Homo sapiens: one gene and its partners. The protein of the gene in region 1 purifies or fractionates together with the protein of each later gene. This does not show direct contact. Each region holds a gene or a part of one and is shown in the gene's direction. Other genes may lie near its edges. The genes, in order: ADCY9, LEMD3, ANKMY2 and FUT8.

Evidence for each region.
Region 2: the proteins of ADCY9 (region 1) and LEMD3 purify together in Homo sapiens (co-immunoprecipitation; 2 studies listed by BioGRID and IntAct, with this or other methods). This does not show direct contact.
Region 3: the proteins of ADCY9 (region 1) and ANKMY2 purify together in Homo sapiens (co-immunoprecipitation; 2 studies listed by BioGRID and IntAct, with this or other methods). This does not show direct contact.
Region 4: the proteins of ADCY9 (region 1) and FUT8 purify together in Homo sapiens (co-immunoprecipitation; 2 studies listed by BioGRID and IntAct, with this or other methods). This does not show direct contact.

The regions. Positions count from the first base shown.
Region 1 is NC_000016.10:4,106,417-4,113,444, reverse strand, and holds part of ADCY9 (adenylate cyclase type 9), read left to right. Parts: intron 1-7,028. UniProt on the Homo sapiens protein: Adenylyl cyclase that catalyzes the formation of the signaling molecule cAMP in response to activation of G protein-coupled receptors.
Region 2 is NC_000012.12:65,214,568-65,221,595, forward strand, and holds part of LEMD3 (inner nuclear membrane protein Man1), read left to right. Parts: intron 1-1,409; coding exon 1,410-1,476; intron 1,477-3,984; coding exon 3,985-4,052; intron 4,053-7,028.
Region 3 is NC_000007.14:16,607,749-16,614,776, reverse strand, and holds part of ANKMY2 (ankyrin repeat and MYND domain-containing protein 2), read left to right. Parts: intron 1-1,504; exon of another isoform or gene 1,505-1,638; intron 1,639-4,013; coding exon 4,014-4,228; intron 4,229-5,011; coding exon 5,012-5,147; intron 5,148-7,028. UniProt on the Homo sapiens protein: May be involved in the trafficking of signaling proteins to the cilia.
Region 4 is NC_000014.9:65,408,760-65,415,752, forward strand, and holds the start of FUT8 (alpha-(1,6)-fucosyltransferase), read left to right. Parts: upstream 1-3,970; 5' UTR 3,971-4,455; intron 4,456-6,993. UniProt on the Homo sapiens protein: Catalyzes the addition of fucose in alpha 1-6 linkage to the first GlcNAc residue, next to the peptide chains in N-glycans.

The DNA.
Region 1 (7,028 bases):
GTATGGAGCCCTTCAGCATTCAGCACTGTTTAGCACTTAAGGAAATTGCCTTTGCATTCATTTGGTCACCCTGAAGTCCCATCCAAATGTTTCTCTCTGCCCTTTTTGCGAAAACGTGGAGAATAAAATCTTTCTCCTCTCTAGGCCTCACTTTGCTTATCCTCAAAATAGGGATAGGAAGTCGGCGCAGTCCTGCAGGTCTCTGGAGAATTAGACGGAGTTACTTACCTCTGAGTACACACTGTCTTTTATCTAGGTCTTTTTTTTTTTTTAAAAAAAGTTTGCATTTTCAGCTTTCAGCCATCATTTGTTTAAGGATATTTTATTATCATAGTATTTGCCTTAAGTGAAGAGCTTCATATTGAGCTTCTCCAGCCACCAGGTGATTTGGAAGGGAGAAACGTACCTGCCGGAGAGCTGGTATTCCCCTCCCTCATCCTCTCAGGTTTGGATCTGGTGCCTGGTCCCTGGTTTGAAGCTCCTTACTGCTATTCTTGATGTTTTTACTGGGCTGCTTGTTTTTTCTAATATAGGACAAAAGTCTTTGAGATCTGGAAAATGATATTAAAATAAGTAGGACGAAAAAGAAAGATTTTAAGTAATCTGCTACATTTCTTCCCCCACTTCCTCCTTTTTAAACAGTCCTTATGTTTTACTAAAATCTTCAGGATTGAGGGGAACATCTGTTGTGGAAGTATGTAGAGAAAATAACACTGATTTTTTTTAAAAGCCTGCTTTTGTGAAGCTGTATTGTATTTTGTGGTCCCCACACACTGCATACTTAAACAGTTAAAAGCCTCAGGAAAGGGAATCCTCGGAAGAAGTAATTAATAGTTCCAATCAGAGATGGCAGAAGTAATAGTTTCAATCAGAGACGGCAGAAGTAATAGTGTCAGTCAGAGACGTCCAGTGGTTGAGGTAGGGCCTGCATAGGTCGTTGGTGTGAGATCATCCTATGTGTCCAGTTGGCATTCTCTTTCTCTGGCTTGTGATCTGAGCTCCTGTATCTTTTATGTATTTGTTCTCTGGCAAGGGAACATCATCTTTCTTCTGATTTTTCTTTATTTTACTAACTTTGCTGTTGAAGATTTTATGGATGTAGACGAAAACTATTTTCACCCGAGAATTCCCCTAACCTAGAGCACTTTAAGGACTATGTTAACAAGGTCAGAAACTACACTTTCTGTTCACTTGAAAGATGCTGCCGTGATGAGTGTCTTTCCGTTTAGGGCGGTGGCACTCGCTCTTGAGTCTGAAGGTGTCAGTGGACGGGGCTGTGGGTGTAACCCCCTGCTTGCCACCTTGGCATTTTTAGGGCCCAGGTGTTGTGAGCTCTGTCCTTGGAGACTGTGGGACGGTGGAGCTGGGCGGCAGTACGTTAAATTAAATATGTTGGCCCAGAGGACAATGAGAACGTTTTGTAAGCTGTACTTTGTATGCTGTATTACTCGAATTTCAAAAATGAAGAGGGTGTAATTATTAAATATGTTTGGAAATTGCCAAGTCATTGAATACCTATTTTGTGAATTTATGAGTAGTTTTATTTTTAAGTTTGTAGATCAGGGGTCTCAGACACAGAGCCAAAAAAAAAAAATGCTAGAGTGAGTTTGTGTTTTTTTTTTTTTAAACCTCAAATAGTGTAAATTTGGTAAATTAACTTTTCTTGACATTTGTGTACATTGTATATTTATAAAAGTTTTAGTACTGTAGGGAGTAGGGAAGATAGAAGGCTTAGCTTAGCTGCTGATTTTTTAAAAGTGATATTCTTTCCTTTAGCTCTTTCTCTGAGACCACGATTTTGTTTTCTTGAGCTCATTTTACAAACCTTTGTGGATAGGACTCCAGGAATAGAGTATGTCTACACAACTTCCTGGCCCTTTTGGAAACTGTCCTTACAAAGCTAAATTGAGATGACAGCACAGTTTGTAGAAGACCCTTTCACACACATAGTTAAGCTTATCTACATGTAAGATCGATTTTAGCCTCTGCCTTTGGGCTGGTGGCAGATGTTTTCTCTATACAATATTGGGTATTACGGGAGGCTGAGGCAGGAGAATTGTTTGAACCCGGGAAGAGAAGGTTGTAGTGAGCCGAGGCTGCGCCACTGCACACCAGCCTGGGCGACAGAGCAACTCTGTCTTAAAAAACAACAACAACAAAAACAAAAAAAACCCCAATACTGGGTGTATTAGCCTTTCCCTCTTACCCCCTTTTCTGATCCCAGGGTTAAAAAGCAGCCAGTAGCGGCCCTGCAGGAATGGGCATCCATAGAATGAGAAGGGGCTTCTAGAACTAGCCTGGGAGCACAGAAGGAAGCTCCTCTCATTCAAATTTATCCGAACAGGCTTTGCAGAAGGGTAGTTTCATGATTTCTGCACATTCCTTCACTCTGAAATCTGTGTCGTGCCCCTGGCACTGACTGTGCACCTGGCACTGTGGATGTGGAGCAGGATCCGTGATCGTGGAGCAGGATCCGTGATCGTGAGGTAGGAGGTGGGACTCGACTCCAGAGGCGGGGTTCAGATGCCAGACCGAATTGAGGACTAGCTGATACAGGGATGGGGCAGAAGCAGCGTTCTGCAAGGCACGCCCACCAGTGTGCCTTGTTAGTTTACTGTCGCCATGGCCACACCCGGAGTTACTGCCTCTTTCCATGGCCGTGACCTGACAACCCAAAAGCCACCACCCTTTTCCTAGAAGTGTCTGCCTAAGCCTACCTTTACTCTACAGGAAATTAAAAGTAGGTATAAGGTAAGGCTGGGCGCAGTGGCTCATGCCTGTAATCCCAGCACTTTGGGAGGCCAAGGCGGGTGGATCACCTGTGGTCATGAGTTGGAGACCAGTGTGGCCAATATAGTGAAACCCCGTCTCTACTAAAAATACAAAAATTAGCCTGGTGTGGTGGTGTGCGCCTGTAATCCCAGGTGCTCGGGAGGCTGAGGCAGAAGAATCGCTTGAACCCAGGAGGTGGAGGTTGCAGTGAGCTGTGATCATGTCCACTGCACTCCAGCCTGGGCGACAGCCTAGGCGAGACTGCGTCTCAAAAAAAAAAAAAAAAAAAAAAAAAAGTAGGTATAAGTATGATTGCAAAACTGCCCTGAGCTGCTACTTTCCGCCTTTGGGAAAGCCCAGCTCTGCAGGAGCAGTCATGGAGCCGTATAACACTGCCTGCCTCTTCAATAAAGGTGTTTTCTTTCCTGCCACCGGCTCACCCTTGAATTATTTCCTGGGCAAAGCCAAGAACCCTCTTGGGCTCGGCCCCACTTTGGGGCGCGTCTGACCTGCGTTAATAGTTCCCAACCTCCGTGAGCTCACAGTTAAAAATGTTGTGGAGTATGTTCGGGAGTGGGGAGCGCTTTAGAGGGGGCTCCTGCTGGAGCTGGGTCCTGAGATCAGGCTGTGGCTCTCCAGGTGGACAGAAGAGCACCAGGGCAGAGCGGAGAGGTGGGTATGGCTGGGCCCTGTGCTTCTCTGTGGGGGCGGACGATTGTTAGTTGTTCATCAGGACAAGGAAGGCCATGGGTAGCGTGGGAAGGAGTTTGCATTTGACCCCATAGGTGTCAGGGAACCACTCAACAGGGGGCTTAGGTGATCTGACTTGCAGTTTTAGAAAGTTCACTCTTTCAGAGCTAGTGAGTGTGGGTTGGAAAGAGATTAATGAGGTGTCGAGTAAATCCCAGGTAGGGGTGATGGTGGCCCAATCCAAAGTTACAGTAGCAGTGATGGAGGTGATGGGATCTGAGTGGCATTAGGAAGAGCAGCTTGATGGGACTGCAAGCCAGATTTAAACAAACGACTGGCAGGAGGGGAAGGGCTTGACCATGTGAATGGGAAATGGCATTTTAAGTTTCTGGAAGTGACTTGGCGACAATGTGGAGTCAGGAATGGGTGAGGGGCCTTTGAAGTTGCTATGGTATGAATGGAGAATGCAGGATGGACTTGCAGAGTACAGAGGCCCGGAACCCCTGGCTTGCTTACTCATTCAGCAAATCATTTACTCCGTGCCAGGCACGGTTCTGGGTTCTGGCAATACAGCCGTAAACAAAACAGACAACAATTCCTGCTCTTGTAATAGGGGACAAGAATTTTTAAGTCAATAATATAGGAGGATCGCTGGAGCCCACGAGGTCGAGGTTGCAGAGAGCCGTGATTGCACCACTGCATTCCAGCCTGGGCGACAGAGTGAGACCCTGTCTCTAAGAAACAAAAACCAGGCCTTCAAATAGGGGAGATCTAATAGAGGGGACAACAGGGGAGTCAAACCATAAATAAGTAAAATAGAAAAAGTGTTTTGTGAACAAACATAAAGCAGGAAGGGGATACAGCAGATGGGGTGTACGAGTGTGAGAAATCTTATCTAGGGTGGCCAGTCACTGGGAGAAGGTTGCAGGAATTTTTAGCATACTGCTAGGATTTTGGAAATAATCTAAAAAGTGAGGGGCCAGGCATGGTGGCTCATGCCTGTAATCTCAACACTTTGGGAGGCCGAGGTAGGCGGATCACCTGAGGTCAGGAGTTTGAGACCAGCCTGGCCAACGTGGTGAAACCCCATATTTACTAAAAATACAAAAATTAACCAGGTGTGGTGGCAGGTACCTGTAATCCCAGCTACTCGGGATGCTGAGGCAGGAGAATTGCTTGAACCTGGGAGACGGAGGTTGCAGTGAGCCAAGATTGCACCATTGCACTCCAGCCTGGGCGACAAGAATGAGACCCTGTCTCAAAAAAAAAAAAAAAAGTGTGAGGGACAGTTATTAAAGATATGGAGAAATGGGCCGGGCGTGGTGGCTCATGCCTGTAATCCCAGCACTTTGGGAGACCGAGGTGGGCAGATCAGGAGGTCAGGAGTTTGAGACCAGCCTGACCAACATGGTGAAACCCTGTCTCTACTGAAAATGCAAAAATTGGCTGGGTGTGGTCGCAGGCGCCTTTAGTCCCAGCCACTTGGGAAGCTGAGGCAGGAGAATCGTTCGAACCCAGGAGGTGGAGTTTGCAGTGAGCCGAGATCGTGCCATTGCACTCCAGCCTGGGCGATAGGGCGAGACTTTGTCGCCAAAAAAAAAAAAAAAAAAAAAAAAAAAAAATGAAGAAACGGTCTGATTAAGGTGAGGGACCTTCCACAGCATTTGGGATGAAACCGCTAGGCCTGAGGGAACCGTGGCTGTTGTATTCTGCCTTGGGCCACAAGCAAAAAATGGTGAGACGTGTTATCTCGAGCTGTTGGCTTTTCCTGTCATAGATACAGGGTCACAAAGACAGAAAATGAAACTGTTAGAAAATATCTACAGGCATCTTCTTTTCCCGTGTAAATATTAGGAAGACAGAATGAAGATGCTCCTCCGCTCTCATCCACACCCATGGTCATATCTCTGAAGAGGGGAATACCAGGGAGTGATCACATTGTCAGATGCAGAAATTAAAAAAGCTTTTTTCCCCAGCCAAACTTTATGCTTGTGGAGCAACTTGGGGAGGAGACCCGCTGGTATGCATTTGGGCAGATTGTCACCTGTTGGCCACCTCTGTGATCGAGACCTTTGCCTTAGAGGAGTTCCTATGTAGACCCTGTCTGGTGGGCCGACAGACCGACAGTGGACGGAGGCATTCTGTATGCGTTAGCCTCTGCAAACAAACACCTGTCTCATGCCGGAAATCTGGGCGCCCCATTAACCCTGAGCACGGGCCTGCCAGCTGACAGAACCCTAGCCAGGTGTTGGTTTGGGGTTCAGTTGCATGCTCAGGTGTTCCCCTTCCTTCCCCCGTTAGCTTGTCCCCACCTAAGCCTGCAACCCTTGCCACTGGGATGCTAACCCGTTAGCAGAGCTCAGTCTCCTTGCTTGGAAATTCTGTGTTGACCTGCACTGCATTCTTTTTTTTTTTTTTTTTTTTTTTTTTTTGAGACAGAGTCTGGCTGTGTCACCCAGGCTGGAATGCCATGGCGTGATCTCAGCTTACTGCAACCTCTGCCTCCCAGGTTCAAGCGGTTCTCCTGCCTCAGCCTCCCAAATAGCTGGGATTACAGGTGTGCGCCACCACGCCCGGCTAATTTTTGTATTTTTAGTAGAGATGGGGTTTCACCATGTAGGCCAGGCCGGTCTTGAACTCCTGACCTCAGGTGATCCACCAGCCTCAGCCTCCCAAAGGGCTGGGATTACAGGCGTGAGCCACCACGCCCAGCCTTGACCTGCATTCTTGAGCAGGATCTGTTATGCACGTGGAAATACAGCCTCTCAGATAGCAAATGGCAGAGATGAGATGAGGCACACAGTTCCCCTCCACAGCTGGGGTGGGAGACAGAAAACAGCAGTAGAGTCGACACTCAAGCTGCCCCCAGTGACCATTTGTTCAGGCTCTTTGAGACCTGGCTTACAGTGACAAGGACACAGCTGTTAATTCTGAAGACAAGCTTTCGAGTAGAAGTAACCTCTGGTAAAGCAAGAGAAGGTTAAGGTTTGCTGAATTGCCAATGGGATGAAGAAGGAAGGGAGGGCTGTCTTTTCAGGTAGAATGCCTAAGGAAGGGAAACATGGAGAAGGAACAATTAGAGCAAGTCAAGAAGTTTCAAGATTTTTGTCTTCTGGCCAGCTTGGTGAGATAGTAATTATGTTTCTGCATATTGGTCAGCGTTGCCTATGTACTTTGCTGTGGAATAGTAATCTTGGAAAAAAACCAACCAACCAACCCACATTAATCTGTCCATGTCTGGGCACAGAGTGTGCAGAAGCCTGCGTGGGCCGTAAGTCTCGTCTTTGTCTTGGTTGGTGATTTTAGTATTGGTGTTTTTGCTGGAATTCCAAAACTGTAAGAGTGTAATCATTCACCATTAGAATTCTGCAGGTCCCCTCCTGACTCTGGACTAGCTGAGCTTAGGGGCCTGTCATCCATCTGGCCCTGGGCATATCATTTGTACTTTGCCTGTGACACACCTCAAGACCTTTTCCAACAGGAACTAGCATCCCTGGAGGGAATTTTGTGAAGAGATGAGAGTTTTTGAAACAGGAAGGGAACTGGCAAGGGAAGTGGCCAGGCAC
Region 2 (7,028 bases), on another chromosome or scaffold:
ACCCATAGTGTGCAAACATGTTCTCTTCTGTCCCTGCACATACACCACAAAATAAATGGATGAGGTTGCATGTTATTAGACATATAAATGTTACTTTTCCAGTCTTTTATATCTTGCTTCAATTTGCTCCATGATCTGTTCATCCAGTAAATCTGTTTTGTTGGAAACTTCAGGAAGAAAGAAAGTAATAAAGACAGAGCCCCCTGATAAATCATGGACTTATTTTAGGTAGTGCAATAAGCTATTACCCCCTCCCCACCCTACCCTCCATCATTTATGTCGATCCCTCCTGATCGTAATTGCTCTTAAATTGGAGGTCTTGTTGCTTTAGACTACTTGGCAGGTACTTAGGCTGTACCATTGCAATAATTCTCTATCTGGACTCTTTTCATACAATTATTTCTGCTTCCGAGCCAGCCTATACATTGTACATTCTGGCCCGGGTAGTATTCCTGATGCACAAGTCTGTTTTACTCTCCTGCTAAATTTTCAGAATGAAGTCAAACTCTCTGTCTTGCTATCCAAGGCTGTCTGGTAGTTAATACTAAACAACTTTTCTAGTAGTTTGCAGAATCAAACAAGGGCTACTGGTTATGTAAGAAATATAACCAATGCTTTCATGCCTTCATGCCCTTGCTCAGGGTCTTTCCCATTGCCTAGGATGCTGATCTGTTAGTTTTTCCTTTTAAATCAAACTCAAATATTCTGTTCCATAAATTCTGTTCCCTCCTTCCCTCCTTCTATATTTACAGAAGAAGGAGGGAAGAGAATCTTCTGTATTACTCTGCAGTTGTATAACATTTAATATGTTTTTTGCCCTTGAGTACAGGAACCATCTTGTTCACTGGGTCTCTCGCTTTGCTGAGAGAACAGTTCTTAACTCCTAGTAGATGTTTATTTAATGTTTGTTTCATTTTAACAGTTCATAAGTTTATACAGGGGCACCTTGGGAGCCTAGGAGAGGACTGAGTATCAGTCAACGTGCCAGTACTCATTCCCTTAGTTTTATGTGGTTGAGTTAGATTAAAACAAGACATGAAGGGCAGCCTTGATGAAGAAAACAGTCTCATATGAACAGTTTACATAAGAATACACTGTGCAGAGGGGGATTGGGAACATTGCTTTGGTGATTGATGGAGTTTATTGTCTGTGAGACCTTTTTTTTAGCACTAACCTTATGCCAATTTTTAAATCGTTCTCCAGAAAGTGAAATATTTAGAGTAATAATTTAGAGTCTTAGATTAAGGTTTCTTAAAAATATGGTGCCCATTACTTAAATGTGAATTTGTCTTTCAGATTATGTGGCTTCTGTGATTTTAAATTTACTGTTTTTTTTTTTTTGATTAAGAATTATTTGGTGTTTTTTTTCTTGTAATTGGGTATTTCATAATAACTTCTCTTAATTTTAGGAAAGTGAAAAAACTCTTATGATGAACACATTATATAAGCTTCATGATCGATTGGCACAGCTTGCAGGTAATTGTTTTAACTTTTATAGTTGCTAAAAATGTTTTGAAAAATGTATGTAGCATGTTATTAGTAGAAAATATTTTTCCAAGTCCAGTGTTATATTTGTGAAATATTTTTCTTTAGAAGTTTTCATTACCTATACAGAGTGATTTTTGATTTTTACATATGTATTTAATGAAGGCTTTTTTCCTGCCTGCCATCTGTATTAGAGGTAATATATATATATAATATAGTTATAAAGTTGATCAAATTTCTTTATTGCATCAGTGGTAACAAAAAATCTGGAAAGCTTAAGTATCAGAGGAATTAGGTAAGCAGTGAATTAACTAAAATCTTGGATTAAATATACAAATGCAGATTTTCTTTTGTTGGTTGTATAGGTATCATTCTGTTTGATAAAGTAAATTTATTCTCCTGTAATTTTCTCTCCGGATTAATTGCATTTTCCTCATAGTCTGCTCTTAGTAATTCTTTGAGAGCTCTAAGGTAGTCAACTTGTCCGAAATGGGAATAATTTATTATAGATTAATTAGTATCAAGTTTAGCACATGTAAACTGCAGTAGCAGCTTATCTATTACCTTTTTTTAGTTCTTTTTTTTTTTTAAACATATAATCTGAAAGAAGAGACTTGGATTCTTGTAAGCAGGCATAAGAAAAGAAAAATGCAGTTTTCAAACTTTTCTATGTAGCAGAACTTTTGTGTAAACCAGATTATTGGTAGCAGCCTATAGGTAAATATGGAACTTCTCTGGTTGAATGGAGGTATTTAGGATCCTGACAGTTTCCCATCCTCTGATCTCTCTTTGTTTTGTACATTGGGTTCTTAATTCTGGTCAATTTTTTAAGCTTTTAATTCTGTATTATATCGCTAAAAGCCTTCTTTGCTTTGATTGTCATTCACACACTTCAAGCTAATGACATTTATTTGGTATGCTGTAGCACCCAGAGATAGGTTAAGTATATGCTAGTTATGCTAGCTAGGGATATTGCTAACACAAGCTTCTACAGCTATCTCTGTAGCATTGTTTTATCAAGTATGGTTCATGGCCAGCTAAATCAGCATAATCTGATGTGCTTTTAAAGATACAGATTCCTTCCCCTTGAGTAAGGGTCAACAAGCTTTTTTTCTGTGAAGGGTCAGATAGTGGATATTTTAGGCTTTGTAGGTTAGTTTGCCTCTGTCACAACCACTCAGTTATGTTATACCATGAAAGCAGCCATAAATACTACATAAGTGAATGAGCTTGGCTGTATTCCAGTAAAACTTCATTTATAAAAACCAGAGTAGGCCAGATTTGACCCATGGGCTGTAATTTGCAGACCTCTGCTCTAAATCTATGGGATCTAAATCTCTGAGGATGCACTAATAAACTTTCAAGACTTGTTCATCTGATAGGTACTTCTCCCCTTTTTATAGCTACTGACATTAAAATGATTACTTGAACAAAACTGAAATGAGAACATGGCTGCTTTTATTTTAGAAACATTTGGCAAGGATTTTACTTTAATTATTCTACTTTCATGTTAACAAGCTTTTTAACTACTTGAAAGACACAGGGAAGGGAAAACATGACAATTGGAGTTCAATATGAGGATAATTTATTTCTAATAACCACTTATAGTCTAAAGAAAAAGCCCTGAATTCGCTTCTTATCAACAATTAAAAGAAAAGATAAATGTAGTTTTCCAAAGATTTATATGAGCACATCCCTTTGTAGAAACCAGATCATAGGTGGAAACTTGTACCTGATTTCCCTGTTGGTCTGTTATAACAATTTTTGTTTTTTAAGATTTTTTTGAGACAGGATCTTTTCTGTCACTCAGGCTGGAGTGAAGTAGGGTGATCACAGCTCACTGCAGCTTCAAATTTATGGAGTCAAGCTGTCTTCTCGCCTCTGCTTCCCGAATAATTGGGACAACAGATGCATACTACCACACCTGGTTATGTTATAACAGTTTTTAAGGCATGCACACCCCTTGCTAAAGATAGGATTAGTTATACTCTGAAAATGCACATACTTTAATTCATTAATAAATTCAAACTTATTTGAACCCTTAAATGATTAGCTTTAAGAATAGATGTGTAAGTTAAGTTAGCACAATGAATATGCTGAATTTTTTCCCTTTTAGGAATAATACATATTTCTGGAGGGCGTCTTGTGTGCCAAGATCTGTGGATAGGCATCAGTGTGACATAGTTCCTATACCAGCTTACAGTTTAGTTGGGAATATAAGAGGAAGATAAGTTCTTGTTTGGACTGAAATGCATTTAAAAGTTGTGGTTAATGTAATGGTAGTTGTTTGTTTATATTCTTACTGGAATTTCTTTGTTTATATTCTTACTGGAATTTCTTCTAGAAATTATAAATAATATTGTTCATGTTCTTTCTTTACTGATTATAATAATATAACCTGTAATTGTATAATGTATAAAATATTTGAATTAATTATGTTTGTTTTCTTCTGTTTAAGAGAGTACTGATTCAAAATTAATAATATGCTAATCTTTCCAGGAGATCATGAATGTGGCAGTTCTAGTCAAAGAACGCTTTCTGTTCAAGAGGCAGCTGCGTATTTAAAAGTAAGCAATGAAATTAGAATTTTAATAGCTATATTTTAAAAAATTATATAAATCATTGCTACTTGTAAGAATCATATGTTTGATTATTTTAATTGTACTGTTAAAAGCTTGGGCCTGCTGTTTGGTATAATATGAGCAGTTATGAGAAAGTAAAATTGTTCAACTTTTTTTTTTTTTTTTTTTTTGTGAGACACAGTTTCGCTCTTGTTCCCCAGGCTGGAGTGCAATGGCTGATCTCGACTCACTGCAACGTTCGCAACCGGGGTTCAAGCGATTCTCCTGCCTCAGCCTCGCGAGTAGCTGGAATTACAGGCACCCACCACCTCGCCCAGCTAATGTTTTTTGTATTTTTAGTAGAGATGGAGTTTCACTATGTTGGCCAGGCTGGTCTCAAACTCCTGGCCTCAAGTGATCTGCATGCCTTGGCCTCCCAAAGTGCTGGGATTATAGGCGTGAGCCACCTGTTCAATTTTTTTTAGTTTGTTTTAGAACATTCTCTATGAGAGAATGCATATTAATTTGGAAAGGGTACAAAGAAACATTGGTCATAGGGAAATTGAGATAGGTGAGTAGTAGCATGTAAGAGAGCAGGTAAATATCTAACCATTTATTTAAAATCTTCTGTCCCACATCAGTTTCTTCTCCAAATACTAAGAGAACTTGCTGTTGAATTTTCTAAACTACTGTAAATAATTTCTGGAAAATCTTAATGAAAGGTAGTAAAAGATTAAAGATGGATAAATGTCATTCTGATTTCTCAGAAGTGGAAAGTGGCATTTGAAAACCATACAGGAAAGCTTGTTGTCGGTCCAGTTCCATAAAGATAATTTCATAAAGATCTGAGTTCTTGCAAATGGAAACGTTGATCCCTGGAAGGTGGCTGGCATTTGAACGTGGACAAGTCATGCCATACAAATTTCATGCCTCCCATCCCCTTGTTAAAATTGTGGTAAAAAATATATAACGTGAAATCTGTTAACATATTTTTAAGTATACCGTACAACTATATGTGCATTCTTATACAGCAAATCTCTAGAACTTCTTCATCTTGTATGACTGAAACTCTATAGCCATTGCACAGCAGGCCCCCGTTTTCCTCTGCTCCATATCCCTGGCAACCACCATTTTACTTTCTTCCTCCATCAGTGTGATTAACAGATACCTCATATAAGTTGAATCCTGCAATTTTTGTCCTGTGACTGGCTTATTTCACCTAGCATAATATCTTCAAGTTTCATCCATATTGTAACATGACAGTACTTCCTTCATTTTTTAAGGCTGAGTAGAATTTCATTGTATGTATACATATATTTTCTTTATCCAGTCATGTTGATGGGCTTTTAGATTGTTTCCACCTCTTGGCTATTGTGAATAATTCATCAATGAACATGGCAATGCAAGTACTTCTTTGAGACTCTACTTTTAATTCTGTTAGACAAATACCTAGAAGTGGGATTGATAGATAATATGGTAGTTCAACTTTTTATTTTTTGAGGAACCTCCATACTGTTTTCATATTGACTGTACCATTTTACATTCTTTCCAATAGTATAGTAGGATTCCAGTTTCTGCCTATCCTTAACACTTATTTGCCTTATAGCTCACTGTGTTTTTATTTGTGTTTCCCTGATGATTACTGATGTTGAGCATCTTTTCATATACCATTTATATACATATACATCTGTGTGTATATATAGCATGTATACAGCATATATATAATACCTTATCTGTTGGCCATTTGTATATCTTCTTTGGAGAAGTGCTATTCAAGTTCTTTGCTGATTTTTAAGTTGGGTTATTTATTTTGTTATTGAATTGTGGGGGTTTCTTATGCATTTTGCATATTAACCCCTTGTCAGATATATGGTTTGCAAATATTTTCTCCCATTCTGTAGGTTACTTTTTCACTGTATTCACTGTTTTTTTTTACTGCACATATGCTTTTTAGTTTGATGTAGTCCCACTTTTCTGTTTTTGCTTTTGTTGCCTATGCTTTTGGTGTCATGTCCAAGAAATTATTGCCCATATCAACGTCAAGAAGCTTTTCTTCTATGTTTTCTTCAAGAAGTTATATAGTTTCAGGTCTTACATTTAAGTCTTTAATCCATTTGGAGTTGATTTTTGTGTACGGTATAAGATAAAGGTCCAGTTTGATTCTGTTGCATGTGGAAATCCAGTTTTCCTAGCACCATTTATTGAAGAGATTGTCATTTCTCCATTGTGTAGTCTGGCACCCTTGTAGAAGATTGTTGGATCATACATCAGTGGCTTTATTTCTGGTTCTCTATTTTGTTCCACTGGTCCATTTATGTCTATTATTATGCTAGTACTATACTGTTTTGATTACTATAGTTTTGTCATATGTTTTAAAGTCAGTGTGAGGCCTTTGTGGTTCCATATGGATATTAGGATTATGTCTTCTATTTCTGCAAAAAATGCTATTGGGATTTTGTATTGCTGTATTGCCTTCGGTGGTATAGTAATTTGAGTAATATTAAGTCTTCCAATTCACGAACATGAGATGTCTTTCTATTTATTTGTGTCTTTTATTTCATTCAGCTTTTTTTTTTTTTTTTGTAGTTTTCAGTGTATAAGTCTTTCACCTCCCTGGTTAAGTTTATTCCTAAGTATCTAAATCTTTCTAATGCTATTATAAATGGGATTATTTTCTTAACCTCCTTTTCAGATTGTTGTTAGTGTATAGAAATGTAACTGATTTTTGTATATTGATTTTATATCTTCCAACTTAGCTGAATTTGTTTATTCTAACAAGATTCTTTTTAGTAGAGATAGGGGCCTTGCTATGTTGCCCAGGCTGGTCTCAAACTCCTGGGCTCAAGTTATCCTCCTGCCTTGGCCTCCTAAAGCACGGATTACAAGCATGAGCCACCACACCCAGCCAAATAACAAGATTTTTTTGGTGAAATCTTTAGGGCTTTCTATGTATAAGATTATGTCACTTGCTAAGAGAGATAA
Region 3 (7,028 bases), on another chromosome or scaffold:
GGTTCTTCCTTAACATAAGGCGTTACTATCATGTAGTAAAATAGATTTCCCCAGAAGTTTATTACGAAAGAAGAATCTGTGGAGTCTGCTGAGCATCATGAAAATGAGTGGACAGTTCTTATAAGGTGACTCTTCTGAAGACTGACACTCACTCAAAGATATAAGATCCAAAATGTGTATAATCTTATTACTTTGTTGATGCATCCCTGTGCATCTTTCTTGAGTACTTGAAGGTTGAGAAACAAACCAAATTTACTCATTGTGTGTTCCTCCACCCAAATTAATTTTCTAGGCCCTTAAGAGAGATGACAAACTAGTAGATACCTTTCCCATCAGACAGAAGAGTGGAATCTGCTATTTTTATTTTAGAAAACTCAGAGTTTTTCTTAATATTCTGGAAGAACTGCCAGAGGCAACACTTGTGATACTAAGTGGGCAAATTCAGTTGTGAACTGCATACTCATGTTTCTAGTGGAGATTACAGAGGGCTTAGAATTTAACCTTTAAAAAATATGTATTTTCTTCTGTGTTACTGTTTCTCTCCCTCCCAGCATACCTAGGGAAAAGAGAACTCCCAAGAGAAGCATTGACCTCTGTCCATGGCACTCTCTCAGGCATGGGCTGGCTGGGATGGGGAGACAGGTTTCTGTCAGGGTACAGTATTTCTCAATGTAGAGAATGTGTGTGGTTCTGTAAGACTCTTGTTCCTCCACTGCCTGAGCAATACAGGATATTCTGGCTTAGACTGACTTGAAGAAGTTCCCTGTACTTTTCTGATTCACTGTCTTTCATATCTATGTTTCTGCCTCTTCAGATTGCAGTAAGGGTTTGTGGAATTTTTTTTTTTTTTTTTTTTGAGATAGGGTCTTGCTCTGTCGCCCAGCCTGGAGTGCAGTGGTACAGATCTCGGCCTTCCAGGTTAAAGCGATTCTCCTGCCTCAGCCTCCTGAGTAGCTGGGATTACAGGTGCCCACCACCACGCCTGGCTAATTTTTGTATTTTGGGTAGAGATGGGGTTTCTCCATGTTGGCCAGGCTTATGGAATAATTTTTTATGTTTACTTGGAACCCAGTCTTTCAGGGTTAAATGTCCTAATAATTATTAATACTCTACCTTCAGTTATCTTTGAAGGTATATATTTTAAGTAAATTAGATTGAGGGCATAATTATGCAGACAATAATTTGTAAAGGTATATAGTCTGAAATAGACTACATAATATTTTTTGGAGTATGAAGGGGGCTATCCTATTATATACCTTCCTCCAGACCAGACCTTGCTTTTTGTAGGTATAAACAATCTATTCGCTCGAAACCTTTTCTTTTATCCACCCTTGGGATCTAAAAGCCACCCAGTTGCTTTTGTTACTGTGGCCCATTTTTATTGCTCTACCCCCTTTTTAAGCTAGCATGGCATTTCCTATGGAGTATTATTTAAAAACTAATAACCACTGTGTAATGTTAAACAGCTTTTAAAACAACCTCGGAAATTCTCCCCAATACACACCTCACTTTTCATTACAGTGCACCTAATATAGCTGTATTTGTGTCTAGATTAAGTGGCTGCCGTAGCAATAAGGATGCATTTGTTTTCAAAAGGGATTTGGAGGATTGTGCTGATGCCCAGAATATGAAGGTTATCTAGGAGAAAAACAAAATCACAGAAAAAAATGTCAGCAGAGCAGGGTCTCTAAGTGTACAGGAGGCAGATGTGCACAGAACAATCATGTCTTTGATTATTGTGATTTTCAAGCCCAGTATTGTAGATTTAGCAGTTTTTAAAAATAGGATTTAAAAAATAAAAAGAATTCAAAATGCCACTACATAAACATATTCTCAGGTAGCAATCCTTTGAATGGTAAAAATTTATCTAGTTTTTAATGCCAATAGAAATATATTTATTTGCTCCTCCTCATTAATTAATAAAAAGGATTTCCTTTATAATATATTACTTCATAATGCTGCAGAGATTAAGGAAGGAAACAAGTACAAATATTATTCTTTTGTGTGCAGCTATGTAGTTGTTTCAATAAGCGCATGTTAATGATGTGGTTATTTGTCATTTTTCTTGGTGTATATTTGTGCTGTGTATTAAAACATAGATAAGGTCTGATGTCTCCAAACAAAAAATTATTAATCTGGGCTCTGTTTGAAATTTTTTGAAAGAATTCTCACTTGTAAGTTTAAGATTCTATAGTTGATTATAAATGCCATATATAAAAATACTGATCAAACAACTTTAAATGATTACAATTAGCAGAAGTATAAACAGATAATTAATGAGTCTTTTCTTCTCCACCATAAATTGTCAAAGTATGTTTTGGTAGAGAGAGTTATCAATAAGGATTCTGATTATACTTACTTCATTAAGTCTAATAACTTATTATTAAGTGCTGGATTTTTGTAAAACACTAGATTGTGTATAAATCTAATAAATGTCAAAAAGTGAAATTCGTTTAATTTTACAAGGACATTTAATCTGTGTTAAATTTCTAATTAGAGGGCTAGCTATGGGCTTTACTAATAGATGATCTTTTTTCATGCCTAAAGAAAAGAATCTAATTCAGGAAATCTACCTGTTGTTCCCTGACATGTATAGTCCCTGGGATATTGATTTAGCTGTAACAGGTAGGTTAGCAAGTACTGACTGGCTGTCTGCTCTGTGCATACAGTTGTGTCCCTGTTACATTTGTTGTGGTCTTTGTGCTCCTTAGTTCAGCTAGATCCAAGTTCTTGTCTTACAACCAGGAAGAATTAGACAGGTGGACACTGGAGAGTGAGTGGAGTAAAATTTATTAAGTGAAAGGAAAGCTCTCAGCAAATAGGAGACGCAGTGCAGGGTGGTTCCCCTACCCAAAGGCGGGAAAGTGCCCCATGTGCCTGGGTCCAGGTCCTTTTATGGACTCAGAAAGGGGAGTGCATGCTGATTGGTTTGTGAGTATGTAAAAAAGGTTAAAGTGAAGACACCACTCAATGGTGGGCACAACAGTGTAGAAAACCAGTTAGGAAAGGGTAGGTGTATGTAAAATAGGTGAAGGGTGGGGATCAATCAGAAGAAATTGAGTCAAACAGGAAGACAAGTTCTCAATCCGGTTCAAGGATTTAATTTGTAGCTTGGCTTTCAGGCTTTAAACTGTCTTTGGCTTGGAAGTGGGGCTTCACCAAGGACCCACCCCTATTCTCTCTAGGCATTTGGCTGCCTCCTGCCACTCTCACATTCATGTTTACATTACTGTTATGCCACCATGGATATTTACAGCAGTCCTTTGCAGACCTACTTCAAATAATCTACCCTACAACAAAGCTAATACAAAAATACTCCATATTACACTAAATTTGAGCATAATCTGTGCATACATAGGAAATGTGGGACTCATAACGTGTAAGATTTGATCATTCTAATATTTCCCCTTTAAAGTTATTTATGGCTTCCTCTTTGACCTGTTCTCATTACTGTAGATGATTGGAAGCATCTTCAGGAAAATTTCCATAGAGAAATATAGTTAATTGGAAAGTAAAGCATATTTCATTTTTAGACTTCATTCTGAAAAAATCTCATTTTCTTGTGCTTAATAAGAATTAATGAGAATTGTAGTTCTCCTAGCCATGAAATTCTAGAGCTGAGTAATGTTAACTAAAAGTGGTTATTGCTCAATGATTTGATTCTTTATGTAAAATGTACAAATTTGTCATGTTTATCTTTAGTAAAAGTGAATTTAACAGAGACTGTAAAATCATGTGCTCTTGAATGGCATACTGGCACTGTGGTGTAGGTAGATGGAAGATCACATTATAACTTTGATATACAGAGTTCAAGAGATTCCACTATTTCAGGGTCTTTCTATATTAGTTCTATAAGTTCTGGGTAATTTGCATTCTAACAAATAACATAATAACTTCATGATCCTAAGGAAGGCTTTCTTTGGTAATCTTTTGAAATCAACTAAATGGACTACCTAATTTGTACATGAACAAGTGTCTCCTTTAATACCTGAGTACACTGGGATTTCCTCTAGATCGTGATGCTTGTAAATGAGAATCCTCTGCTGACAGAAGAAGCAGCCCTGAATAAATGCTACAGAGTGATGGATTTGATTTGTGAGAAATGTATGAAGCAAAGAGACATGAATGAAGTATTGGCTATGAAGATGCATTACATAAGCTGTATCTTTCAGAAATGCATTAACTTCTTAAAAGATGGAGAGAATAAACTGGACACCTTGATCAAAAGGTACTCTTTTTACTATGTCGTTTATAAAATACACTCAAGTGAATATTTTTTTTAATATGAAGCCTCATTATTATGTGTTTCAAAATTAAACATTTTGGCAGCAATTGCTGTTGTTGGACTCACATTTAGTCTTTGACAAACAGAGAATAATATTATACTTATATTGAGTGATTATTCAGTTCTGTATCCTTTACTGTGATGTTTTTGTTGTTACCAGCAATTTACAGATGAGGAATCTGAGGTTTGGAGAGGTTAAATAACATGTGTAAGATCACACCGCGAGAAAGTGGCCCAAGTCCAAATTTGAGAATATTTTATGCCCTAGGTCGCAGCCCTAGGTTTGTAATGGCATCCAGGGTGTCTCTGTTACTGTATCTTGGAGAGCTGTGTGTTATGCTGCTTCTCTGACCACCAGAGATCAAATTCTCTTGCATCCTTACCTAGAAAAGGGAACTAAGTCTGAAGGGTGTGGCTCTATGAGAGTTTTCATTCTTAGTACAAATAACTGACATGGTAATAAGTAACTAGCTAATCTGATAACAGTGTTTAGTGTGTTTTATGGTGGTAGTCACCTTTGCATATTCATTTAATGGGCTGGAAAACCTTATAAGGCCTAGCCTAACATATAGGTTGAACAGCAATTTGAACTGAGCCCGTCATCATGATTTGAAGAGACAAAGAAAATCATAAGTAACAGAAGAAACTACTAAAAACTGTTGGGTTCAACTAGGAGAGAATGCTTAGTGATTCAACTCCAATTACGCTTTAAAAAATATCTTTCAGCTTGTTAAAAGGCCGAGCTTCTGATGGCTTTCCAGTGTATCAAGAAAAGATCATTAGAGAAAGTATCAGAAAATTTCCTTACTGTGAAGCTACACTCCTCCAGCAGCTGGTTCGAAGCATTGCTCCTGTTGAAATTGTAAGGCTCCTCTTACCTAAGTTGACTCTATCAGTAAAACCTAATTCCCACCTATTGTATTGTTAAAGGCAAGTTCTCTTTAATATTTATTTTTATTATTTCAGAATATTTTTAGGAACAAAGGTGGAGATAGGTTTGCCTGCCAAACCTGTTCCTGTTTATTTATTTCCCATCTCACGATCCTCTTCTTACCTTATTATGGTTCATAGTTTCATAAACAGGACGTCGCTATGTTGAAATGTAGATGGTTAGGGTAGAAACTTACATTTTAAGTACATCCACTATGTAATATAGGTACACACATGTACACTTGTAGCTATATGAATTATCAGCACAAAGTCATACACTAGATGCAAGTATGAATTGATCACCTAGGGGGATAGTGTCCAGGCAGTGGGGATGTAGTGGGATAAGCCATGGGAAGGCTCATTGTGGTTCCTGGTAACAATCTCAAAGTATGCCTCAGCTTCCTATAATCCACCTTAATGCCTCTGATTAGAAAATGTCCATACTTACAACCTATTTATACTTACCCACTATATAAGTGTATTTTGTTAACTTTATCTGTTATTTAAATGACTTACTATTCATTTGTCATATATTTTAATTTATTTGGCCTTTTCTATTTTGCGACAGAGTCTGTTTCTGTCGCCTAGGCTGGAGTGCAGTGGCACAATCTCAGCTCACTGCAACCTCCATTTCCCAGGTTCAAGCGATTCTCCTGCTTCAGCCTCCTGAGTGGCTGGGACTATAGGTGCGCGCCACCACGCCCAGCTAATTTTTGTATTTTTAGTAGAGATGGGATTTCACCATGTTGACCAGGTTGGTCTCGAACTCCTGACTCAGGTGATCTACCCACCTCGGCTTCCCAAAGTGCTGGGATTACAGGCATGACCCACTGCGCCCAGCCACCTTTTCTATTTTGAATAGGTTTTTGTTTACCCTATCTATACCCATTCATGCTTTTATACGTTTCAATCAAAAACTTGATCAGCTTTTGTCTATCAGGCAAGAAATTGATCCTAAGACCAGTCCCATCCATGGCTTCCTCCCTCCCTCTGGCAAATCTGGTTCCCTTCTCTGTGCCTTCTCTCTGGGTTGTTATGTCATTCTCAGTGTGGAACATCAGGGCTTCAAGTGGGCTCCAGATGCTCCTTTGTACATTAAGAATTCACCTAGTCTGAGCCATAAAATAAACAAGAAAGACCTGAGCAGAAAAGACCATCTCATAAAGCTCATGCATTAATTTGTTCATGTGTGCTCCCCCTATTTTCAAGAGTTTCTTTACTCATACTTTTTAATATAGTTGGCTATTTAGTGTTTATGCTTTTGGAAGAATAAAGTTAGCAAATTATGATTTGTCAATTACAAATGTGTCTTGGCAGCACATATCAAAGCCCAACCAACCATGAATTAAATAGATGAGGGTTTATGTATTCACATATACATAGATGCCCAAAGGTAGGCAGACTAGGTCTGGCATAGTGACTTAAAAATAGTTTGGGGACCCAAACACTTTCTCATCTTTCCCTTCCAATATTCCTTAGCTGTGTAGGTTCTCATATGCATACTTATGATCTCATGGTTACGAGGCATTTGATGTTCCTCCTCCAGCTCACATTCCTATCCCAGGCAGGCAGGAAGAGCAAAGGGGTCTATATCTGGAAAACATAAGCTCTCCCAGAAGCCCTCTGCCTGTGTCACATGACTTTCCTTAGCTACACAGGAGTCCAGGAAAATTTTTTTTTTTGGCTTTTCTAAACACTCCTCCTCTGAACAAAATTACACTTCTGTTACTGAGGAAGCTGGGAGAATTGATATCAGAGAAGCAACTAGCAGTACCTGTTATGTGGGATTTCCAGCACTCACAAATGGTTGCTG
Region 4 (6,993 bases), on another chromosome or scaffold:
AATGGGAAAGATTTGCTCTGGCTTTTTAATGAGTAGGTATAGAGTTTGTTTAAGGAGCTGGCTCAAAAGTGACTTAAAACACATTGAATTTGAAAATATAGATTCTTAGCTACTCAGGAGGCTGAGGCAAGAGTACAGCTTGAGGCCAGGAGTTCAAGACGAGCCTTGGCAACATTCTGCGACCTTGTCTCTAAAAAATAAAAATGAAAATATAGACTTTTTTTCCCTATATTTCATTTTTGTAGTTATTGTCAATGGTGTGTCAAGTTGGCTAGATTTATAGTTTTAGAACTGACGAACAACTAAAACTTACCTAGTCCAACCCTTTTATTTTACAAATGAGAAAACTGAGGCCCAGATGGGTAAAATGATTATCTCAAGGTCACCCCTTCTTGCTCTTGGCAATAACAATGCTGCCCTTTGGATGACTTCCTGGAAAATCGGATCCTGTAAGTGAAATGTAGCTAGAGCAACAATTATAAAACAACGAGAACAATTAACAATTATTCAGAATGCTTCCATGGCTGACAGTCAGTTGGTACACGTTGGTAGAGATAGAAAAATTTCTAAACTATTTGGTAAGTAGCTTATGCTAAGCCTTCTGAGTGCCTCAACCCCTTGCTGGAACTCCACAGATCTCCCCACCGTAATAACAGGATCCACCTCAAAGGTTTGATTTGAGAATTAAATGGTGGAGGTAAAGAGTTTTGCATGAGGCCTGGTGCTCAGCACTATTACACTTTGGCTATTATTTTTATTACAGTCATAATAAAATGGTAGTAAATTTCAAACCAGTTTCTACATGAATGTTCACAACTTAGGAAATGTGATAGCATTCACGTTCATTAACTTTGATCTAGCTAATCTCTCAATAAAATGGCCACTCATGTACTCACTTTAACTTTCATTTTGATCTTTTCCATAGTCTAAGGGTTGACTCCTTCTTGCCCCGGGACACCCGAGTCCCCATAGCTCTAGCTGATGGTTAAGAATTTGACCGAGGCTATATACAAGAAAACAATGCACTGACAAGGCCCTGTTACTTGTTGTATAACAGATCATAACGATTGTTCTGTCTAATCTTTTGTTGAACAGAACTTGTCTTTAACTTTTGGGATAAGCAAAGATGGGTCCAAAACCTAGTTTGGTGAGGGAGGGGTGGAGTAAGAGGTGGAGTACCTGTACTTACTTAAGCAACTATTACAAACTGGCAGTGATGAGCAGCAGAGGCAAGCAGTTGGGAGAAGAGAATGAGAGAGCGCAGCAACAGGGTGGGACCTGCAGCTTGTGGAAAAATGCTTTTGACACAGATACTTTCTGATGGCCAGTGATGTTTAGAACCTTTTGGGGGATTCCTTCTCTCTCAGAATTTAACCTGGCAAGAGAACGACTGAGTTCTAGGAATTTTCTTGTCTGGAGAGAGTAAAATAAATGTATTTTTTAAAAGCTGGGACTGTTATCCACACTGAGAAGAGGCAGGGTATAAAATTCCCTTTCATAAGTGAATTTCCTGGAAATTCATGATTGGCTTGGAACTTAATGTGTAAAGACTTGTTCTCAAATATCAGTTGTTTGACAGAGACCTCCAGTTTTGGGATGGCAGCTAAATCCTGAGCCTGCCTTGGAAAGGGTTTTGATAATAATGTTCCATCACAGGTGGAGAAGCACATTGATTCAACAAAGCAGACTTCAAAACCACTGAAGAATTAGTTTCTGAGTGTATTCAAGAGATACCAAAGTTATTTGTTATTTTAACGTATATTATACTGTTCTATACAAATGCACCAAATCCTGGGCAAAACATTCCTAGGACAGGTTTTTTTTTTTTTTTTTTTCAGTTGGAAGGAGGTAGGGAAAATAAGTGCTTTAATTCCTAGGATTTTGGAAGTAAAAATGGAACACCAGACAAAAATGGAATTTTTAGGCAAATGTAAAGCTTTGTACTTGGGTATCTCAAAGTATTATACAGTGTAAACTATCATGATTATTAACCAACTAGAAGTAGTTCTTTTTTTTAAATTTTATTTTTAATTTTAGACATGAGGGTCTTGCTATGTTGCCCAGGCTGAAGTGGCTACTGACAGGCACGATGTGGCACTGCAGCCTGGAACTCTTGGGCTTAAGTGATCCTTCCTGCTTCTTCTATCTTAAAAAAAAAAAGTTACGCTTGCTTGTTAAAATATTTTTAAAATGCTGTGTTTAAACTAAGAAGTAAATATCCACCCCACCTCTGACTTCTAAAAATTATCTAAAGTATGACTGGTAAGATTTTTACCTTTAATCCCACATAAGTCTAAAATTTGTGTTCATTTCCAACAACCAAAGTGTGTCACTTTTATACCAGAATTTTGTCCTGCTTATACGTTTAGTACAGAAATCTCATGGGAGAGAGCATCCATGCATTTACAAATTGTTATTGAATTATTTTATTGAATGATGACACCCAAACTGAGCTAGAACATAATTCTGGCTCTGCTAGTACATCTTCTGTGTGATCTTGGACAAGTCACTCTACTTTCCTTTCAATTTTCTTTTCTCACAGGGAGATAATCATAAAAACGACTGTAAAGTACAGCACTTCATAGAGTGCTTTTTGTTTAAAGAGCTGACAATAAATACGAGTCTCAAGGTCTAGGAAAGCCTCCCTCACAACCTGAGCTGCTTGAGGACAAGGGATTTTCTTTTGAATCAGCAGTACCTTATTTGTGTATCTGTGATAGAGTTCCTGGTACATAAGAAGGTCTCAATAAATATGTGAATTTATGAATATTAGGCAGATTGCAACCTTGACAGGCCACTGCCTCTTAAATCTCCTTTCTGTGATCTTTTAATATTTAACATCTAAAAGGCCGCCGCTACTTGCTTTGGGATAAGTATCCCCGGTATGTACTTTAAAATGCCCAAGCCTAGAGAAATGATTCTTGTCTTAAGGGCACCATTTCGCTCTCCCACCGTAAAGCGCCCCAGGCTTGGGATCTGGGTCCCAAGGCTACAGGGAAGAGTTTGGAACGGGAAGCTCATCTTCCGGCCCTCTGATTGGCCGGCTCGCACTCCACTCACGCGGCGCGCAGCTCTGATTGGCCTCGGCGGCACCCCTCGTCCCGCGACTACTTTGTGTGCTGGGGCGGCGCGCTCCGGTCCTCCCGCTCAGCTGGCGGTCTGGGCTGCTCTGGGGCAGCCCTTCGGTCCACTGCTCTGCATCGCGGGCGCCGGGAATTTTCCGAGTCCGAGCGGGTAGGACGCATCCTAGGGCAAAGCCTCTCCCCTCTCCCCGTGCTGTTCTCTTTCCCGTACTAAATAAACTTCCGCCTCAGAGGGGCTGTCGCAGCCGCGGGTCGGGAGAGGCCGGGCATCGAACTCAGGCCCTCGTGGGGGGGGTCTTTCTCTTCGAGTGAATGTGGAAACAGCTCTTACAAGATAAAGTAGGGCTTCGCTGAGTCTCCTGGGGGAGCGATGCCATTGTAGGATCGCGCTGGAAGCAGCAGTCAAGCGGCCAAATGCGGGCTGCAGGGGCTGAGCAGCAGCAGCGCGCACCCCTAAAAGTAGCAAGGAGCCAGCTTCAAAACCTCTAGTGCGGGTGCCCCCTAGGGCCGCCGACTGAGCTGGCACGGGCCGGTCCATTCCCGGCGCTGTAGGGAGCACAGCATTCTCTGGAGGCGAGTCTCCTCCCGGGATCCAGGATCCGCTCGCGCCCCGCTCAGCCTCCGGCCTTCAGGCGGTAGAGGGCGGCCTACGCCTGTGTGCGAGCCGGAGCCGGCGTGCGCAGCCGCTGCCCTGCTGGAACTGTGCCGTCCCGCTGTGGCCCGCGGCTCTGCTAGGCGGTGGATGCTGCTGCTACGCTCTCCACCGGCGCAGCGAGGAAGGGGGCGGGGAGAATCCCTGGCACATGCCAGGGTCGCCGTAGGTGGCAGCGGCCGGCGCATGCGCGCCCTCTCCCAGAAGCCAGGAACGCCGAGGGGCGCGCTCCCCCATTCGCGCGCGCACGCCGGCGCTGGCCGAGGCTTCCCCGCCTGCGCTCGTTGTCAGAGCCGCTCCGGCGCGTGCGCGCGTTATCTCCGGCCGACCCGAGCAGCCGGTTCCCTCCTCTCCAGGCCCCCTCCCCATCCCACCCCCGCCGCCTGGCCCCAGCCGACCCGTCCCTTCGTCTCCCCGCGGAATGGGGCCGGCACTGCTCAGGGTCGCGCGCCCTGGACCCAGCTCGCTCTCGGTCTCGCGCTGTCAGCGACTGCCCGGCTCGCGCCGCCTCGCGCTCTGCCTCAGTCAGTGGCGCCGAAGGCTCCGTTAAGCGGCGGCGGCGGTTCCTGTTTCCGTTTCTTCCTCTCCGTTCGGTCGGGAGTAGCATCCTCCACTCAGCCACCCTTCCCACTCCCCCATCGTGGGGCAGCTGCGGCTGAGGGCTGTGGCTTTGGCAGCTGCGACGGGGAGCGGCGGAGACCGCCTCTGCTCCCGCCTGGGGTAAGGGGGCGTTTTGGGAGCCGGGCCCCGCGCGCCTCGGGGTCTTGGGCTGGGCTGCGCGCGGGATCTGAGGAGGCTCCGCGGCTGTCCCTGCTCGTTCACCCGGGCCTGTTGCTGCAACTGCTGCCGGTTAACCAGCGGCTCTCGGAAAAGTGGGGAGGGAGCCCCCGGGACGCTCTGGCGGATGCCTTGGCGCAGCCCCGGGGGCGCGGGCAGAGGGTGAGGGGCGCCCGCCTCTCCAGCCGGGACGCGGAGCTGCGCCGCTGCTGCCCTCGGCGTCGCGCATCCTTGCCTAGGGCAGGGGCCAAAGCCTAGGGAAGGAGAAGGGTTGGGGGCGGGGGTGGGAGGTGTCCGTCGTTTCCCCTCCACACCTACCTTCCCTTCGTCAGCAGCTCGGTCCCTGGAGTCGCGGTTTGTGGGGAGGAAGATGCCCGTGCGTTATGGGCTCTTTCTGAGTGCTGCTCGGGCTAGAAAGCAGGGAGTGGACCCTCACAAAGATCCGCGAGGGACTGATGCAGGGCAGTTAAAGGCTTGAGTGCAGCTGTACTCCCTTTTGATGTGCAAATGACGAGCTGGCGGCTTTTGAGTATCAACTTATTTGGGAAGGTTAAATGAGTCCATATTTATCAGTTCTAGGAGGTTTGTCCTGCAGGATTGAGTGGGTTGTCGGGTGCAGCACCTGTTCTTTCTTCACAGTGGGGATTGCAATCTTCAGAGACGCAGTGTATTTCTTAAGTGGCAGTGTCATGCTTAGGGTTTGTCCCGGATGAGCTTTTATTTTAGCATTTTGCCATATAATATATAGATTGAGGCCTTGGTTAAAGGCACGGACAGGTGGTGTTTTTTTCCTTCCTATGTTTTAATTATTCACAGTTTATTTAAACCCACTCAGGAAGGTGGACCCAGAAAAGCCAAATTCTGTAGTACATAACCCCAAATTTCAAGGTTTTGCGGAACAAATTCAACACAAGTTTTGTGTCAGTTTAGAGTTAAACGCATCTCAAGTAACTGACTTAACTGGCTTGCCTCTATGAAAACTGTAGGCAGGTTTCATTATAGATTTTTTTTTTCTTGTTATTCCGGCGGTTAGGTGCATGTTTATTTTCTTGATTAAATTTACATTCTATGTTTTATGACTAATTCTTTAAATAGGTGCATCATATAGAAAGTATTTTAGGAGAGAAATTATTATTTAAGCACTACAGTATATCAGATATATGAGAAATAATGGAGTTGTAGTCTCTGCTCTTTAAAATAACTGTAAAAACATCTTAAAACCCTATGCCAAATAATAAGGCCCTGTACCTTGCTGTCCTTGTGAAATCTGGTATGTGTATAGAAAATCTTAATTACTTGATTTGTAAATACTACAGTAGTATTGAAAAGGTGGGAATTCAAGCATTTGTAATTGTGATTTCACAGGTTTAGTGTGTAAAAAATGCAGGGAGTTAGAGATGAATAGGCTATAAGACACGTACAAAGGTAGTTCCAAGACATGGATTTTCTTTTTGCTGCCTTATAAATTGAGAATTCTATTTGAATTCAAGAGCTGAACAGCTGGAATGAAACTTGCATAGATTGCAGAAACAGATGCAAAAATGTATCTTTGGTCAAGTTGTGAGTTAACTTGAAGAGTGTCTTGTGTAATAGGATAGTGATTCAAAATAATTTCCATAAAGTACGGCCTTATATAGGTTATATTTTGAGGATATTTTTGAATTTAAAAAGTCACCTGAAGTTGTTTTCCTACAAATCAGTTCTGTTTAAGATGTATGGAATCGAAAAAAACAAAACAAAACTAATTCTGATTACATCCTGCATTGTTTTGTTGCAAATTCTTACCAGTTATTTTTACGCAATTGGAGTGTCCTTAAAAGTGGTGAATCTTAAAATTTGCCAGTGGATTGGAAAAAACTGTTAACTTATTATTTTTAAAAATGCTGTTATATTAGTACATTGGTCTGGAGGGGGAGCTAGTGCCAAAGCAAAGTATAGCTTAATAGCTGTTTGAACTTTTAAAACACCCAAAACCAGATTTTTATGACCAAAAGAAACATAAATTTTTAATTAAAAGAGTAGGAAATTGATGTGGGCATATATATGTACATAGTTATTTGTGGAGTGAATATATTGTGTATTACAAATTAGTTTAAAAAAGTCTTTTCATGCGCTGCAATAATGGAAAGCTAAATGCTTAAAGATTTATTGGATTTCTCACTTAAAAATCTCTAAAATGTACCCCCAAACTTAGAGTATGTTATAGTATTTTCTTAACCTTCTTGTCCTGTTCATCAGAATCTAAGGCATGTATTCTTGACCCATTGTACATGTTGTGTGTTCTTAAATTTTGTTTTTATAATAGCTACAATCCTAAAATTTCAAAAACGAAGCTTCAAGTAGAATCTTATATGGGCGAAGGTATTAATTGTGTGGTAAGCTAGGTATTTATCAAAAGTAGATATAATTCCTTTTTTTTTTTTTTTTAAAGTAGAGATAATTCCAATAAAAAAATGGACCTTTTAGACATCTGGAGAACAA